2 separate regions of the Homo sapiens genome follow, and region 2 is linked to region 1. A link means that fine-mapping ties the variant in region 1 to the expression of a gene that starts in the linked region. Tissue or cell type: testis. Region 1 holds a variant in brackets; the other region holds the start of a gene. All regions are shown on one strand. Distances are between the middles of the regions.

What was found. PIP is the estimated chance that this variant, and not a neighbour inherited with it, causes the effect.
Region 2: NRXN1 starts here. The variant in region 1 is fine-mapped to the expression of NRXN1 in testis (GTEx, PIP above 0.99).

The regions. Positions count from the first base shown.
Region 1 is chr2:50,414,758-50,420,144 of GRCh38, forward strand. All of the region lies in intron 17 of NRXN1 (neurexin 1), which reads right to left. Among named protein-coding and RNA genes, the nearest start is that of MIR8485, 280 kb to the right of the region's middle. The variant A/C (reference allele first, on the strand shown) is at 2,554.
Region 2 is chr2:51,029,708-51,035,094 of GRCh38, forward strand. It overlaps NRXN1 (neurexin 1), which reads right to left and starts at 2,425. Exons shown (of 23, transcript NM_001330078.2): 1 at 2,274-2,425. NRXN1-DT (NRXN1 divergent transcript) reads left to right here and starts at 2,894. Exons shown (of 11, transcript NR_135237.1): 1 at 2,894-3,309.

The DNA.
Region 1 (5,387 bases):
CTTTAAAAGTACATTTTGAATTTCTATATTAATTTTAAAGTGCATCAATTTTGTCATATGAACGTTCGTAATACCAAATATATCAATAAACTGTAAAAATTGAGAAGGGAGACTATGTTGAACTTAAGAAAATTTCATTTGAAACCTATTAATTTCAGAAACAAACCATACATATATAACAGAAATAATTTACAATTAAAATTTTTACTGAAGCTCTTTCAATGGACACCCTTCATCTTTCCCATTACTCTCTTGTCACTTCATAACTATGACATGGATCAGGCACATTAAACATAGTTCTACATGAAGGAGTAAAGACAATGACAAAAACTGTGGAATGGTACATAGGAAGGACTTCATAGAAGCAGGGAGTAGGCAATGAGTTTTAGTGCTTTTAAAATTGAAAAAAGAAGATAATCATTACTAACTGAAGGTCTTTCTATAAAATAAAAATAACAAGGTAGTTCACATTAAATACATTAAATTACAGTTAAAGTTATTTTTAACTCCACAGATTAATGCACTTTCCCTTTCACAGAACTCATTTTCTATTAACTTTAGCAACCAGACACCAGAGGTTGCAGTGTAAGGTGTATTTTTTTATGGCTCAAATATAATTTAATCATTGTATTTTCTCTTCACTAGATTGACAAAGTGCACTATGAATTGGTGGAAATGCGCTGTCTCATCATGTGATGATCAGAAGCTGTGATAAAGATATCATTTGCTCCAACATTTCTAGCACACGCTGCATAGAGTCTGCAAATGTTCTGATGAAGCATGGATAATGATTTGAATTTACACTTCAGATCCACAGCATATTAGGCTATGGTCTCACTGGAGGCATGTGAAATATTAGCCATAGAGATGTCTTAACCACCATTTACATTTGTTTTAACATAAAATCAGCTAGGGTATAAAAATGCACAAGTCTCTCTAACTGTAAATAACCACACATCATCATAAATATTGAGTCCAGGACCAATACCTTATCACTCGTAGTTACATCTTTTTGCATTAATTCAAGAAGATCTTGTGACATAGTCTCTCACAATGTGATATGCTAAATTACATTAAAAAAAAACAGAAAAAAATAGACAAACTCTGTAGAGGCTTGTAGTTTCATCACTGTGAATCACTTTCAAATTCTATATTCCTATTTTTATGGCCAACTGTTAGTAGTTATTCAACAACATACAAAAAAAAAAAAAAAAAAGCTTGGACTAGTACCATTGATTTGTTCATTCAAAAAGAATTTGTTTAGTACCTCCTATATGGTAGCCCTATCCTAGCCACTGGGAATACCATGGTGAGCAATACAGTCAACAGTTCCTTCCCTCAAAGAGCTTATACTTCAGTGGAGACAGATGGGCAATAAACAGAATAACTAAGCTATATAATAAGATCAATTGTATTCTGTACTATGGGGGAAAACAGAGCAATAAAGAGAGAGAATTGGAAGTGGTGGAAGTGATTGTAAATGTTAATAGGGTAAGAAAGGCCTCACTGAGCAAATAAAATATACCAAGAAAGGAGACAGGAGGAAGGCAGGAAAGTAAAAGGTTGGGAGAACAAAATGCGCAAAGAAAGCTGAGAAACACTAATGTGACTGCTGGCCTCTGTACCTACCTTAAGCTTTGTGTTCCCTCTACCAGTCCCAGGTGACCTCCCCAAATATCCCTTTGGTCTTATGCTCTATTTCACTCACCATAAAATTAATAATTTCTATTTCCTTCTATTTTAGGAGACATATGAAAATAATATATTATACATTTTCACTATTGTATTAGTCTGTTCTCACACTCCTATAAAGAAATGCCCAAGACTGGGTAATTTATAAAGGAAGAGGTTTAATTGACTCACAGATCTGCATGGCTGGGAAGGCCTCAGGAAATTTATAATCAGGCAGAAGGGGAAGCAAACATGTCCTTCTTCACATGATGGCAGGAAGGAGAAGTCCCAAGCAAAGAGGGAAAAGCCCCTTATAAAACCATCAGATCGTGTGAGAACTCACTCACTATCAGTGGCATGGGGGTTACCACCCCCATTATTCAATTACCTCCCACCAGGTCCCTTCCACGACCCTTGAGGATTACAAGAACTACAATTAAAGATGAGATTTCGGTGGGGACACAGCCAAACCATGTAAACTATTGTTTAGGATATGTGTATACCTTTTTCAGAAAGTTATATTTTGCATTAGTGCAGTAAATGAAACTGCAATATTTACACAGATTCATTTTGAAATCTTAATCAAAAAACAGTAACGGTTTCCTTTTTACAGTTACATAAAAAATGAAGAAGGGACCCACCCATTAAACCTACCTTGAATGAGGAAAGAGATTGAGACTGAATTTCATTTCTGCCTCCAGTCATGTTTTATAAAAGCGGTCAAACCAGTTTTCCTTACAAGCAGATGTCCAGTTGTATCTGTATCTGCCTGCCTCCTCAACCCATCCTCCACAAGATTGAGAAAAGGAAGACAGTGTGCTCTTGATCTGGATACACATTTCAAGCCAAAGTTTTATAAAGAGGAAGTTCAATTCAATGTAG[A/C]AATATCTGAATGCTGTGTACTATTTTATTGGGTACAGAATAAAAGGGGCAGCAGAGTAACTTTTTGACTTCTCACTGCATCTTTTGTTTTCCTAAAGCTTCTGCTTCACTACGAATGAAGAAGACTAAAATTTCTCTGAAGAGAAGGAAGCCATCCATGATTTTTGACAATGTTAAAACCCTGATATTCTGCTTGGTCCTAGGTATTCTGCTGTATCCCTGACATTCTGCTTGGTAGTAGGGATTTGCACTGTGCTTGGTCCAGAAGACAAATTCCAAGCTCCTACAGAGTCTGATGGCTTTACAAATAACCTAGCTATCACAATTCTAAATAAGTGTGAAAACCCTGTTAAAGCACATAGGAAGGGGACATAACTTGTTTGGTGGGGAGGGAGAAGGCAAGGCTTTCTTGAGGCAGTAACATTTGAATTGAGGCCTGGAAAAAGAGTAAAAATTAAAGAAACAAAGAAGAAATGTACTGAAAAAGCAACAAAGTCCAAAAGAACGCACATCCAAGAAACCGAAAAGTGCAGGATCACAAAGAGAAGTATAAAATGTAAAGAAGGAATAAGGGATAGATGGGGCTGCACAGATAAGAAGGCTAAAATATCACATGTGGATTAAGAAGGACCATCCTGAAGGCAAGGTGGAGGAACGGAGTACTGAGAAGTTTTAAGCAGAAAAATAAAATGACCAAATGTGCATTTTAGAAAGATTACTAGTTCTTCCAGAGGTCTAACCGAGAGGTCACCATGATGATGACCTGAACCAGGGTAGAAGCTGGAGGAAAAATAAAATCAAAAGGATTTTATTTCCTTTGTACTTGAGAGTTATTTAGGAGATGAAACAAGTGACCGATGGAATGTAGGGAGGGGTTTCCTTCTTGGTTCACTGAGCACGTGCCTCTTCTTATATCTCTAAAGCAAGCAGGAATCTCCACTGAGTCCTGAACAGGCTCAAAAAGTTTCACCAAGAATGAATGTGCAACTATCCCAACAAGTTTCACCAAGTATAAATGTGGTTCAGACTCATTCCTCAACACATGGTGTACCCTCCTTGCAGCCTCCCCCAACACACACAGCTGTTTTATTTTAGATGCTGCAAATCATAAATGTGTATTACAGATCTAACAATTGTAAAATCTCCAAATAAAGTTATTTCTTTGAGTGACTGGAACGGAGAAAGGGAGCGGTGCTTTGTATTTGGCAGGAACTTAGATTAGTGTCTTTTCAGAAAGCCCAGTACATTTTGATTAGCTCAATCATCATTCAACAATTATTCTCTCTCTGATTTTAAAATTTTCATTAAAAGCAAATTTTTAAAAAGGCATACCCTTGTACAGGAGAACTCCCTTGGTATTGAGCAAATTCATCCAGGGATCAAGGGAAATACAAAATATTTTCACACCATTATCAATGTTTATGCTGTAGCAGAGGAATCAGTCTCAAACACAGGCAAAATATGCATATATTTTTAAATACCTTAGATGCTATAGTAATAAAAATATTAAAATATATATGGCAAATCCATTAATCTACTCTGAGTATGTCTATTAACATGTTTAAAGGCATAAGTGGTTTATCATATTTTTATCATATTTAAGTTACAAAAATCTTTTTTATTTTAAGCTTTTTATCATTTAAATCATATTTTTATTGTAGTTAAGTTACAAAAATCTTTGACTCTCCTTTGAATATTTTCAAATCAATTCCATAAGTGAAGACAAAATACACAATTGAGGAAGGGGCCATGATTTGCCCCAAAATTGTCATCAAATGAATGAACTCAATGACTTCTGAATCACACTTTTAAATCAGATGTTCCCATTTGATCTGTCAATTTCTCCAGGTTTGATACATAGGTGTAAAATCATCACACTCTTAAGGCAATGAACTGCAGGCTTAAATAAATAGTATATCTGAAAGAGATTAAGGCAATCGTATCTTTCAGAAGAATCATATCTTTCAGAAGACATACTTGGTAATGAGTTTTGGACTGCAAGTATCAGTTCTTAGACACAGCATGTGACAGTTTGGTTGCTTGGCTAAAGTTTCACAGCGAATAATTCATCTCTGCATCAGCTGGACCCTGACCTGCAATCTCATTAGATTCATTCTAGCCCAATATTAAAAGTATTTCTTGCTAATAATGCAAATGCCATTATCATCCAAGTAATAACTAGTGTCTGGTAGTATACTGATGAAATTTTGGGTATTCTTTTGCATTTTTGTCCAATTTTCATTATTTCTCAGTGGGAAAGAAAAAAGAAAGGAAGGGAGGCAATAAGGAAGAAAATGAGAAGGAAGGAAAAAAGAAACGGAGATAAAGAAAGTAGGCAGGTGGGTGTATCTTACAAATTTGCATACATACAATAGTTTGAGTAAATTGGAAATACTTAAACTTTATCCTTTGTAATGTAAAAACATTAAAACAAAAATTCTCCACCATGAAAACAGAAAATATATATTTGTATCTCCTCCCATTATATGCTTTTATGAGAGATGGTTAGTGAATTTTACACTTAAATAGACACACTTCTTTTTGAAACCTCAGTTTTACTTGGTACCAATAACACTGAAATAATCCTCCACTGTATCCCAGCTAATGCTTCTGCATCCCACCAAATACATCTGAATGCATGGCTAAAACAGAACACGTGATCTGGCCAGCCTTACACGTGTAATGAAAATCTAAATTAAAGAGAATGAGACAGCAGAGATAAAGAGGATTTGGGGAAGGAATAAAAGAGACTAAACATAGCACTGAGAATTCTCCTCTTTTTACAAAAATGACAGACTTAAGAGAGGGCATGGAACAGATTAAGAGAATTAACA
Region 2 (5,387 bases), 610 kb after region 1:
GTTTCTTGATAGTCTCTTGCAAAATTTCACACAAGTATAGTTCTCCTTTATATTAATGAATAATCTGTTGTAAAAGAAAACCACTAATTGGAGCCAGATTTATGTTTTTGGCATTGTCTCAATTGCCCTAATATTAACTTCTCTAAAGGTGCATAAAGTATTTAATATTTTGCCTAAAAGTGTAGATCTAACTCCTCCTGAAGTCTGTATCTTGCTGTCAGCCCTCACAATTTGTGTGGTCAGAAGAGCTGTTGGCATGTATGTCATCTCAGCTGCAGTGGCTCCAGGATGCTAGAATTTAAAACCGTACCTTTGAATCACTCACTATACTATTAAATCACTTCTCTTTATTCAACTCTAATCTGACAGGTTCTTGAAATGGTACAGAAATCATAATCACTGATTTTTTTCCTAAGTCATTTTTTAACCAAAAAATTACTCTTACCTTTTGAAAAAAATTACAAATGTATAATCTGTTCATGTCAAGGAAGTGCATTATTTTTCTCACTATTTCTTATATTCCCCACCTCTTGCAAACACACACACTGCAATATATATACACCATACACACATGCACACACACACCCCAAATTTATTGTCTGGATGTAGAAGCTCACTACCCAATTAACACTTTTTTTCCCTTACAAGCTGAAACTAGCAGTAATTTATGGCACCGCATTGTGCTGCTGCTTCTCCATGGGGGGAGCTGAGAGCATTTCTCTTCAGTACAGAGCAATCCCCACAGGTGTCAGCTGAGAGCCACCAAGCTAGGGTATCCCACTTCAAGTTCCTCCCAGATGAAATTGATGACTGGTTCTCTCTCTTTCAACACACACACACACACACACACACACACACACACACAGTGTGGGTGTGCGCACATACACACTGCCCACTAGCAAAAGGAAATAAAAATCTCAGTTGCTTATTTATTATGGCTGATACATTCCACACCATCAGCAATCACCAGTCATATCTTGTCTTCTCCTATATCAAACCCGAGGAAAGAGGCTCGTCAAATCATCTGAAATAGCATATTATTCAGTATACTTTCATATTTTAAGTGGACTCAGGAATCTGCTAAATTTTCAGTCATTTGCAAAATAAATCTGGAATATCATGATCAAGAGTAGTGCTTTGAACCCTTTCTCAAGCTCATGTGTTAGAAAACCTTTTTTTTTTTCTTGTGTGTGTAACTCTGTTGGAGCCAATTATTGTATTAATTAATGTTACATTGATCACATAACCTTTTTTCTCCCGTCCCTCCTGCCCTCCTCCACTAATGCACACCTTGACAATTTTAAGGGATGGTGGAAGAGAGAAAAACCGTAGAGCAATATATATGTACATATAGATATATATACATTCTTATCACAGGGAGGTTAACTGGTTTTCCCAGTTCTTGGAGGAAGCTCATTGTATGTGAGCGAGTATCTGTATTTATATGGAGAAAAGAGGATTCTCTCTAGGTGCCAGAAAGACCTGGCCAGTTCACAAATTAGAGGATGAAATAAAGGGATCTGAAAAACATCCTTACTGCAGCCAAAAGAAGAAGCGCTCTAATTCAAAAGCAGACTAACAGCATCATTAATCTTTTCTTTCATTTCTAGAATCAAATTCATCCCAAGTCACTAGGAGGATCAATACAGTACGCTCATCGGCTGCAGTTGCATATTTTAATGTTTCTGATATCACACACACATACACACCTACACCTTTCCATGCACCCTTCAATATATATATATATCTTCATAAAGAACATGAAATCTCTGAGAGAAATTTTAGAAGTGCTTATTATTTCACCCCTGGCTTTTGCAAAGTCTCTCAATACCAATGCACAGCCAAAATTCTCTCTGGCTTTCCCGCCCAGTCTCTAAGCTCCATCTCTAATACCAGTGCAGTTTCTTGGAGCTCGGGGTCTACTGCACAAATTAACGATGGGCACAGTGTGGGGCTGATGAGGTAGGGAAGGAAATATATGGAGAGATATTTTATTGCTTTGATATCTAGCCTGTCTCTTATTTTCTTTCTTTTGCTAATACATCACTGCATTCAGCCTTTAAGTTACTACCCCAGTTCCACCATCTCTTCTTGCCATCTATTTAAAAGGCTTCATGCAAAACAACCAAGATCTACACTCCTCCACCCTCCCACCACCCATCTTTCCCTGTGTATTTGTGGCAGATCCTGGCTCAGTTACAATGGGGAAAGATATCCTTCTTCAGCTTGCCTCGCCCCATCCCCTCCCCCCAACCCAAATTGAGCTTCTTTACCTGCCCGGTTATTCCCCTCAGCTCGAGCCAGAGCCTGAAGCATGCATCGGTCAAAGCGAATTTCCTGAGGTCTATGGATAAGGCGACTGCTGCTGCCTTTTCAGAGGCGTCAGGCTTGAGCGTCTATCTCCAGGAGTGCGGGAGGGGAGAACAGGCAACGGAGGGGAGCAGGAGGAGGAGGAGGAGGAGAAGGAGGAGGAGGGGGAGGAGAGGGAAAGAGCTGGGAAGGAAAAGGCGGTGGTGGAGCCTGAGAAGGCTGGGTTACGTGACGCCGGGTGCTGTCCTTCTGAAAGAGAAGGGCGGAGCTGAGCTCTCCGCAGTACCATGGAGAGCGGCGGGCCCGTCCTTTGGCTGGGGAATGGGTGGGCTCGGCCCGTGGTCGCAGCCCCTCCAGGTCTGGATGCTGCGGAGCGAGGTGCTTTTACCTTTGCATCGTCCCCTTGCAGGGGGAGCCTGATCCTGGGGGCGGGGACCTTCCGCAAGCGCTTCTAACTTGTCACCACCCTCTCTTCCCCATCGGAAAGAAAGAAAGAGAGAGAGAGAGAGAGAGAGAGAGAGAGAGAGAGAGAGAGAACGAACGAACACGAACCAGAGAACCACGTAGCCTACTGAGCATGCCCAGGCCCCTGCTAGACCCATGGAAAGCTGTATGGAGATTCCACTTCTCCGGGGTTTGGTAGTGATTGGGCGGGGATACCTGAGAGGGTGCCAGGAAAGGGTCCAGCAGTCAAAGAGAAGGGGCCAAGGAGTCGATAATTATGATGAGCTCTGGCTTTACTTGTGCACCTTGGTCTCCTGCTCGGAACCCTTGAAAAGAAGCTGCAGCTTTTCGAGGAATGCAGGGGCAAGCAAGACTCACACAGGCACTGGCATTCTTCTAGATCCGATGTCCCTTGCCCCACCCCTTACTGTGGCTCTGCCTTGGGTAATCACAACAAATCTTCATGACTTGCCTAGGCTGTGCCAAAAAGATGTAAAAGGAACCCACCAGGGTAAGATGCCAACTTGCAGACGACGATCAACTGTGTCTGACAAGGTGCTTTTTACTGCAGCCTGTCGTCATTCTCCAGCCTTCTGTGCTCTGTCTTGAACCAAGTTTTCTACCTGTTTAACTCTTCCCTCCGTCTCCTCCTCCCTTTTGCAGCTGGTAAAACCTGGTGAAAGTAAAACTGGGTGTGAGGCTCTAACCATGCAACTGGGCATGCCCAATAGGCATTGCTGGGTTTGGTGAGAAAGGGGTTAAATCTAAGGGAGCTTACAGATTAGGTGGTAGAGGAGTTCGGGGTCTGTGGCTTTAAATTATGGTTTGCACCCTATGGACATTTAAATTCCTATTCCTGTATATTCCTAGCCTGGGTTAGTTTTGGAGCAGATACAGACATTTTTATTGCAACGCCACAGACCTAATAGTCTGAACCTCAAATACTGTAAGGCAAGACTATTTTTGGCCTCCAGGCCCTATAGAGCAAGAATTTAAGAACTAGATAAATTTGGGAACATCAAAATAATATATATTACAATTACAATATGTATATTCTTCCAAAAAACTAGAACTCATTCCTATGATAAGCCGATTTATACTTTCACTACTTTTGTAAAAGGGTCTAAATAACCTGAAGGCGGGTATCACAGGTTTTAATATGTTTATCGCCCTTAGAGAGGCAGTTTTGTCAAGTGGTTACATGTTTGGGAAATAGATTGTCTGAGCTTCAATTCAATCTCTGCCATTTATTAGTTGTAACCTCAGCAAGATACTTAATCTTATGCTGCCTCAGTCACCTCATCTGTAAAATGGATATAATAATAGCTCCCTCTTCATGTGTTTGATGTTGTGAAGATGAAATGAATAAATAAACATAACATATTTGGAATTGTGGATTCCAAATTGTGGAATTTTGGCTATATTTATCAACTACAACCCACTCTGTGTTCTGTTTGACTCAATGGAAGGAATTTCTCTGAAACTCGAATTCTTTGACTATAAAATAGAGGTATTAGTCATTGTCAGCTTATTCCATAAGATTGCTTTGGGAATGTAATGAAATAATAGCTGTTAACATGATTCTTAAAACAAAAATTTAATTTTAAATGATGTAAAACTAAGACTCAGAAAATTACTTATCTAAATTATTCATTCAGTGAACTTGAAACAAAAAAACAGTCTAGTTAATTCAGGGCCTTTTTCAATTTTTCCTACCATTAGGTTATAGGACAAATAGTACAGAAGGTACACCGCGATGTGTTTAGTATAGAGCTAAAGCTTATTGCAAAAGTAAGTGGAATGGACAGCCCACTTTCAAAAATCAAGTCTAACTTGGTTCCATGATGCTCTTAAGATCTGGTGTGAACATGCATCAGTGAACATTATGGTAGTGCTAGAGGCACTCTTAAGAGTCAAAGCACTGCCTTTTACCTGGATTCATAAAAACTCATTATTTACCACCAGTGCATGTGATCTGAACAATTTCCTACTTTATTTCATTTCGTCTTTGTGAATTTTTATTTTATCTTTAATTGGGCTACACAGTGTTTCCACTGAATCAAGGTTTTCCTTGAGATGTCTTCTGTGGTGTTTTGATTTAAAAAAAATGTTGACATTCTTATGCTGCATGTGTGAATTTTCAGATTAAAAAGACCAGTGTTCCCACATCTCTTCACCACTGCCTCCCTGACACACACACACAAACTATATAAACTGAAGGAATAGATGATGTATTGGAGTAATCCCCTTTGCAATCAGGTTTAAGGTACTTACTGTATGTAGTCCAAGGAAGTGGACAGCCCCAGGATCTTTTTTTTTTCAGTAAATATGCATAGAGAAAAGTATCAGTTTGTAGCTTAGAATGCAAATATCACAACATAATTTAATGATAAAAGTTGTTAATTTATTTTAAAGTATGAGTTTTTCTGTTGTTTCTCCATAAATTACTTCAACTCTCTAAGTGGCAGTTTTGTCATCAGTAAAATAAAGATAATGGCATCTCCATTTATATGACTTGGTGGAGATAATGTCAACATTGAATGTTAATTTTGTGCCTACTCCTCGCCAAACAGTGCTCCAAGTGCTTTACTTACATTAACTTATTCTAACCTCACAGCAACTCTAAGAGGTAG